Linked DNA regions of Homo sapiens. The protein of the gene in region 1 purifies or fractionates together with the protein of each later gene. This does not show direct contact. Each region holds a gene or a part of one and is shown on either strand. Other genes may lie near its edges. The genes, in order: TRAPPC10 and C9orf40.

The links.
Region 2: the proteins of TRAPPC10 (region 1) and C9orf40 purify together in Homo sapiens (co-immunoprecipitation; one large-scale study listed by IntAct). This does not show direct contact.

What each region holds. Positions count from the first base shown.
Region 1 is NC_000021.9:44,088,528-44,092,344, reverse strand, and holds part of TRAPPC10 (trafficking protein particle complex subunit 10), read right to left. Parts: intron 2,513-3,817; coding exon 2,412-2,512; intron 423-2,411; coding exon 296-422; intron 1-295. UniProt on the Homo sapiens protein: Specific subunit of the TRAPP (transport protein particle) II complex, a highly conserved vesicle tethering complex that functions in late Golgi trafficking as a membrane tether.
Region 2 is NC_000009.12:74,945,766-74,949,912, reverse strand, and holds the end of C9orf40 (uncharacterized protein C9orf40), read left to right. Parts: intron 1-1,706; coding exon 1,707-1,865; 3' UTR 1,866-3,330; downstream 3,331-4,147.

The DNA.
Region 1 (3,817 bases):
GCAATCAACAGTGCGTTCAAACAGAAGCTTGGATCTGCACACGTCTACGCATAGAGTGGGACCAGTTTCAGATTTAATTCTTCTAAAAAGAAGAATTCATCCATCCAGCCACCCGCTTACTCAGGAGCAAGCCTCGATCCAGCCTCAGGGCAGCCGGAGGAGCTGCACAGGAGCCTTTACTCATCAGCAGTGCAGCTGTTCTATCTAAAGGCTCAGTCGCAACACATACTACATCATTTCCGTACACTCTGGTTCTCTGTTGAGAAGTTTATGCTCAGGTCTACACAATGTTTACCTGCTGGGACTGCGTGTTCAGTGGTACTAGTTGCAGGTCGGTACTATCACCGGTATCTACAAGATAACTATCTGACAGCTGAAAGTCAAGTTCTGACAAATTCTGGACACAAACTTGAACATATTTCCTAAAGTGGAAAAACAAAAAGTATTATTTTGATATGTAAGAACTTTATTAAATATATCTTAGCTTTGTTAAGGAGACCCTCTCTGCCTGGGGAATCAAAAAAGCAACAAAGCAAAGTAAGCTAAGTTGTTGCATAAGTTTCCCTTCAGATTTCACACCGAAAAGTGCCAGAAAATAAACCTTTTTGGCCGGGCACGGTGGCTCACGCCTGTAATCCCAGCACTTTGGGAGGCCGAGGTGGGCAGATTATGAGGTCAGGAGATTGAGACCATCCTGGCCAACATGGTGAAACCCCATCTCTACTAAAAATATAAAAATTAGCCAGACGTGGTGGCACGTGTCTGTAATCCCAGCTGCTCGGGAGGCTGAGGCACGAGCATTGCTTGAACCTGGGAGGTGGAGGTTGCAGTGAGCTGAGATCACGCCACTGCACTCCAGCCTGGTGACAGGGCGAGACTCCATCTCAAAAAAATAACAAATAAAAATAAATAAAAAAAGTTTTTAAAGAGGCAAGTTCTGTGAGGCAATGGAAGAAAGAATATAGTTTCTGACCAGCCTTATTAAGTGATCATGGCTGGTCACCCTCACTGGCCTTTGGGGAGCCACGGGGAGACAGCAGCAGCCCTCCTCATTACAGGTGAAGACTCTCCATTGAGAGATGATAGGCGGGGCTTATATCCATTTCCATTACATGCAAAACTTTGAAAATATTAATAATAGTTACTATTTTTTGAGACAGAGTCTTGCTCTTGTCGCCCAGGCTGGGGTGCAATGGCACGATCTCAGCTCACTGCAACCTCTGCCTCCCAGGTTCAAGTGATTCTCCTGCCTCAGCCTCCCGAGTAGCTGGGATTACAGGCGCCCGCCACCATGCCCGGCTAATTTTTGTATTTTTAGTAGAGACGGGGTTTCACTATGTTGGTCAGGCTGGTCTTGAACTCCCGACCTCGTGATCCGCCTGCCTCGGCCTCCCAAAGTGCTGGGATTACAGGCATGAGCCACCACGCCCGGCTGAAAAATAATTTTTTAATAAGGTTCTTTTAGAGATTATTGATGTTTTTAACTATTAATATCTACAGTTCCCTTTGCTGTGATTTGAAGGGGAAAAAAGCTGCTAGTATAATGTTCCATTCTAAACATGGGTCTGACGTTTTTGTTTCCAAATTATCCACACATCATCAATGGATAAAAAGTTGTGGTGAGAGGCCAGGCTAGCATCCCGAGCCCATTGATCAACGCTAGCACCGTCACTAAGGTAGGACACCTGGACACCGTGGGCCTCCCGGTGCAGTCAACAGGAAGCACACAGCCCCGCCTGCCTCAAAGCAGAACTGGAGTCTACTCAAGCCTTTAGGGCAGCTGTTTTCCACTGGGGCACGTCCGCCCCACCCAGAGGACACTGGGCAGTGTCTACAGACATCTGTGGCTGCCACACCTGCAGGTGGGGAGTGCTACTGGCATCTCATGGGAGAGCCTGGGGTGCTGCTCAACACCCTACAGCACACAGGAAAGCCCCTACAACAGAGTTATCTAGCCCAAAATGTCACTAATGCTGAGCTTAAAAGCTCCTGTTCTAGAGGTTGCAGGCAATTGACAAGAAATACAGGGACAGGAGAACTAGTTAACAAATCCAGCCAGATCCAGAAAGGCGGGCGTCCAGAGGAAACCTGGCCTGCAAGTGAACAAGTCGATGGCTTGAAAACAGGGAAGAAAGGATGAACAGAGATCTAGTGGTCTGATGGAGATTTTGGACCCCAAGTCACACAAAGCAACCATAAAAGGTCATTTTCAGACAGTTGGGAAAACCTGAATATGAACTGGATGTCACAGGACACCAGGGAATTGTGGATTTTAAGACACAAACAATGGCCTTGTGGTCACATAAGAAGACATCCTTGGTCACCACGAAGGCCAGTTTTGAACATTAGGAACCTCCACTTAGAAGAGTCTGGGGAAAGAAGCCAGGGCCCGCACGCTACGCCTCCGTTACCGTGTTCCTGAGGACAGGAGGCTGTGTGTGGTCCTGAAGGGTACGCTGAAGGTCAGTGCGATGACTGTGGAGTAGATGGACCACGGGCAGTCAATCGACACCTGAGGAGGAAGCACAAAGACACTCTCAGACCACTCGCCGACGGACAGCACAGCCACCACCACTGCTGCCCAGACTCACCTGCAGTGCCCGCCCACGCCCTAGACATTTTATTATGGCTTCAACCACTCATTATCCAGGAAGCAAAGCCTTACCCAACACATACACAAACCAACGAGAAACAGGAAGCTATGCATACAGACAAGAGAAACGAACGCAGAACTGGCAAGACATGCACACATCACCAGAGTCACCTCAACGGCGGAAGAGCACAGCCGTCCTCTAAGCAGCAGACCCACCTGCTGCTCCCATACACGCAGGGCCGCGGAGCCATGCATGTTGCAATGTGCACAGGGTTTTGACAAAGTGCTTTCAGTCATGTATTTCCAGATGACATTAGCCAATCAGTAACTACTCCATAGTTAATGAATTATCTAAGCATTTAATCCATGTGAGGCTGAATATGTAACTGAAAACCAAATCAGTTTAGGGGCACAGTGAGGACAAAGCTATTACATCCCTTAAGGGCAGGAAGGAAGCAAGTCTCAAGCCTTATTCCCCACAGGGAAGAGGTGAATACCCCAGCACACAGCGTGCGTGCCGCCAGTGCCAGGGAAGAGAGGATAACACGGCACATAGCACAGGTGCCACCAGCGCCAGGGAAGAGAGGATAACACAGCACACAGCACAGGTGCCACCAGCGCCAGGGAAGAGAGGATAACACGGCACATAGCACAGGTGCCACCAGCGCCAGGGAAGAGAGGATAACACGGCACATAGCACAGGTGCCACCAGCGCCAGGGAAGAGCGGGGTAACACGGCACACAGCACAGGTGCCGCCAGTGCCAGGGAAAAGAGGATAACACGGCACACAGCACAGGTGCCGCCAGCGCCAGAGAAGAGTGGGATAACACGGCACACAGCACAGGTGCCGCCAGCGCCAGGGAAGAGAGGATAACACGGCACATAGCACAGGTGCCGCCAGTGTCAGGGAAGAGTGGGATAACATGGCACACAGCACAGGTGCCGCCAGCGCCAGGGAAGAGTGGGATAACACGGCACACAGCACAGGTGCCACCAGCGCCAGGGAAGAGCGGGATAACACGGCACATAGCACAGGTGCCACCAGTGCTGCGCGCTCCTGCTGAGCTAAGCGCCACCTTCGTGAATGGTGAACGTCTGTGTGAGTTAAGGGAAAGACACTTCCTCAGGTTCTTCAAAAGCTGAACATTACAACATTCGTCTTCAGGCGTGGACTTGTCTGGTGACTCCGTGCTTTGGAAAGACGGCATGCCTTGCCCTTTGCC
Region 2 (4,147 bases), on another chromosome or scaffold:
TGGGATTACAGGCGTGAGCCACTGTCAGGCCCTCTTTTGAGGAAAGCCCAGTAACACTCCTATTCCTTCTTTTTGTTAGATTTGTTCTGGAGGCGCTTCTCTTTTACAATCATGCTCTCTCCAGCTTCTGTTTCTCCTTCCTGCCTCCAAAGACACAGGCTTTTTGTTTTAAGGATTTTATACCTGATTACCAAGGGAAAATTGAATATAACAAAAAGAAGTAAACAGTTCAATACAGTAAATGCCTGGTTTCTTTTGTGCTCAGAATAGGGCTTAAGTCCCAGCCCTCACCCTTGGGACTTCATTTAGGAAATACTACCTCAAATACCTTTTTTCTACATTGAGAATACAATCTAGGCAGGATAATGTTACGTCATTTCTGTCCCGGAACTTCAGGGTATTTCCTGTTTCAGATGTTTTTTGACTACAGAAATAAAATCAGGTATTCATTAAATATTCATGTATTTTTTTCATGTTAGTGTCACTATGTAGATTCACTGCTCTGTCAGTGTTAACTGTTAGTTTCTTGTTTATTTGTTTGTTTTTCATAAATTGAGATGGAGTCTTGCTTTGTTGCCAGGGCTGGTCTCAAACTCTGGGGCTCAAGCGATCCTTCTGCCTCCCAAAGTGCTGGGATTACAGGTGTAATCATGCCCAGCCAACTGTTAGATATTCTTAACAGAAAGTAAGCAGAAATGCTCTAAGGAGACAGTGATTAATGATTCATAGGCTTATTGGGATATAATACCTAGCAATATTGAGCAATTACTATGCCAAGCCTGAATTTTTACAACAGTCCTCCATTTTATCAATAAGGTCAAGATCAGAGTTAGTGGGCGGTGGAGTTATCTTGCAAACCCAGGTCTGTCTGGTGGCAAAGTTTGTGTGCCCTTAGTCACTATGTTTTACTAACATAATTAAAAGACCTTTTTTTGGTCCATGTTTATAAGTAGATAATTTGTACAGTAGATTTTCCAAAATATTAAAGTGAAATTTTTCTTAATATCTTTTGACTTATTGTGTGTTTATCCCAATATTAAGAAATTCCCCCAAAACTTAATTCTTTAAGGCTCAGCATAGAAGACAGTGAACTTCCTAATGAGACTTTCTTACAGACCTGTGCTGTCCAGCACAGTAGCCACTAGGTCATGTGGCTACTGAGCATTGATTTTTTTTTTATCTTTAATAAAATGATCAGTTTAACATTTTCTTGCTATTCGTCATGTTTATAACCTAATACTTTTTGGAAGATTTCAAAATATTTTGGCCTATGTAAAGTAAATCTCCTAAAATACCAGACCTTAAGAACAAGACCAAAAGTAAGTTATAAGGAGTGTGTCTGTGTTTGTATTTTTAAAATAAATTCTTCTTTTCCTTCTTGAAAGATAAAAAATTTTAAGACTTTTTAGATAATTTTCTTTAGGTGAAAAATGGGAGAAAAACTGTGGAAAGAGATGCTCTTGGAGGAAATTCCTTTAAATTTAACAAATACTTTCACAAATTGTAAATATTAAAATGCACAGATTTCATCGAGTACATGAAGTACTTAGATGAGACAAAATTTAAAATGTATATTTGTTAAAAATACAAAATAGAAGATTACAAAATCTTATATGAGTTTGCCTTTAAAACAAATTTGTTTTCTGAAAAAAACTTAATTTTTTCTAAGCTATTGATGCTCTTTGATCTCTCTTTTTTCTCTAAAGCACAATGAAGAATTTTGGCAGTATAATACCTTCCAGTACTGGAGGAATCCTTTGCCTCCTATTGATCTGGCAGACATTGAAGATTTAAGTGAAGACACCCTGACAGAAGCAACACTTCAGGGCAGGAATGAAGGGGCTGAGGTTGACATGGAGTCCTGATGTAAGGAGCCGAAGCAGTGGGATTGGCTGATTTGAGGAGATGTCTCTAAGTGAATTCTCGTATTCTTAAGGGAAAAGTTATTTTCCATACTTGAAGTTATATTTCCAAACCTGAGAAATGAAGAAAGATTGTTCTGACATTAAATACCTACAGTTACTACTGAACCTCTTAATAAGGATTTGTCAAGGATAGAGTACAGTTGTAGGGGAAGTATTTTATGTATGCATTCTTAGAGCAAAAAGTTTTGTTTAAATTCTAGAATTGAAGGTACTGATCTTATAAAAAGAAATTCTAGCAGTTTTAGAAATAGGTGGGAAAAACTCAAATATTCCTCCTATCTGCACCAAAAAGTTTATTTGTGGTATATAAAATGAATATTGTTTTATAATAACTTGTTAATAAAGTACTTTCTAATACATTCTATTGACTCTGTTAGTTGAACAAATAGCTGACTTGAACATCTATGCAAACTTAAGATGGGCGGGATTGTTGTAAAAGCTATTGTTTTAAAAGAGCTTTCTAAATGTAAAGTAGTGATAATTTCAATTTGGGTAGCGTGTTTGCAAAGCTTCCAATATTTGATGTTGGTTAAGCTCTACTATGGGCAACTGAAGATGGATAAAGAAAAATGAAAACTGAATCGGTGCCTGCTTCCCCCTGTTTTCCCAGGATTAGAGGAAAAAATTTATTGTATAATCAGCTTCTTGGTTTTGAATTGCTTCGAGGCATGGTTTTATTCCTTATTACTTTAGACCTGTAGTTTTCAACACTGACAGCACTTTAAAAATCTTTGCCTGGGCCTCACTCTTGAGAGATTCTCATTTAATAGTTCTGAGGTGGGTCTTGGATATAACTATTTTTTTAAACACCTGTCCTGTTTCCCTCCATTCCTCTCATGTGCAGACAGGGTTGAGAACCAGTAGACTAATGGTCGTTTTTCCTGTTTAAAGGAGATAACTAATTTGAGCTGAAGCAATGCTTCTTAATTAGCTTTGTTTTTGTTTTGCTCTGTTGGTGGCTTTGTTACAACTGAATTATTGTGTTATTACTATTTCATTGTTAAAGAAATAAAGTAAGCAATTTGTGATGTGAGTATCAGTGATTAAGTTAACTAACTTTTGTACTGCATCCAGAATGTTGGTTTTGCAATTGAGTAACTGGTTCTTGCTTGCATTTTTTGTTGTTGATGACATTAGATCCAAAATTCAAGACAAATGGTAAATGCCATTGAGAGGGAAAGAGAAAAACTTGATTTTTTTTGTGTAATGAAGGATTTAAGAATGGGTTGACATTAATAAGAATGCTTTAGAACAGAAGACAAACTGTATTGCATTGTGGTCAGACATGGTTCAAAGTCTTGTACTGCCACTTCCTACCTATGTATCTTTAAGCCAGTTATTTTTCATCTCCAAGCCTCAAATTTCTCACCTGTAAAATGAGAAATAATAAATAGTATCTACCTCAGAGAGACTGTTTATTGTCAAGCAATGTTATAAGTACTTTACTTGCATCATCTTGTTTAGTTCTCATAATAACCTTAAGGTAGGTTAAAAAAAATCATTAGAATAAACATGCTGCCTATAGTTAAAGTTTTAACTGCCTCTAGAAGTTTCAGGATAGAAATTGGAATTGAAACTTTCAGCTTATGATATTTTCAACTTACGATGGGTTTATCAGGACATAACCCCATGGTTAGTTAAATGTACTAAATTTATATCACTTTCACACTGTGGTAAAGCTGAAAAATCCTGTCAAACCATCAAGTCAGGGGCAGTCTATATATAGAAAACAGAAAGAGTTAAAATAATTCCGTCCTTTAAAAAAGTTGTTTACTAAGTAAACTTGAGGTAACAGCAAAATTTCATTGTGGATAAATTGAGGTAAAATGTGGGTTTTTAAATGTGTTATAACCCTTCACCCCAATTCCCTAATGTAACATCTTAAATTACCACAGTACACTTATGAAAATCAGGAAATTAACATTGATAAAATTCTCTTGTGTGATTTTGAGGACATGGAAAGAATGACTTCAGACAACTCTTAGAGGATATATGTCAAAAACCTAAAACAATTATAAAATGTATGGACTATTCGACTTTCACCATTGTCCTATTCTTTTTCTAGCCCAGCGTCAAATTCAGGTTCACATGTTATATTTAGTTATAATATCTCCTTAGTCGTCTTTAATCTAAAAACAGAATTTCTTTGCTTTTCATGACCTAGGTACCTTTTGAAGAGCACTGCTCAGGTATTTCATAGGATAGCCCTCGATTTTGGTTTG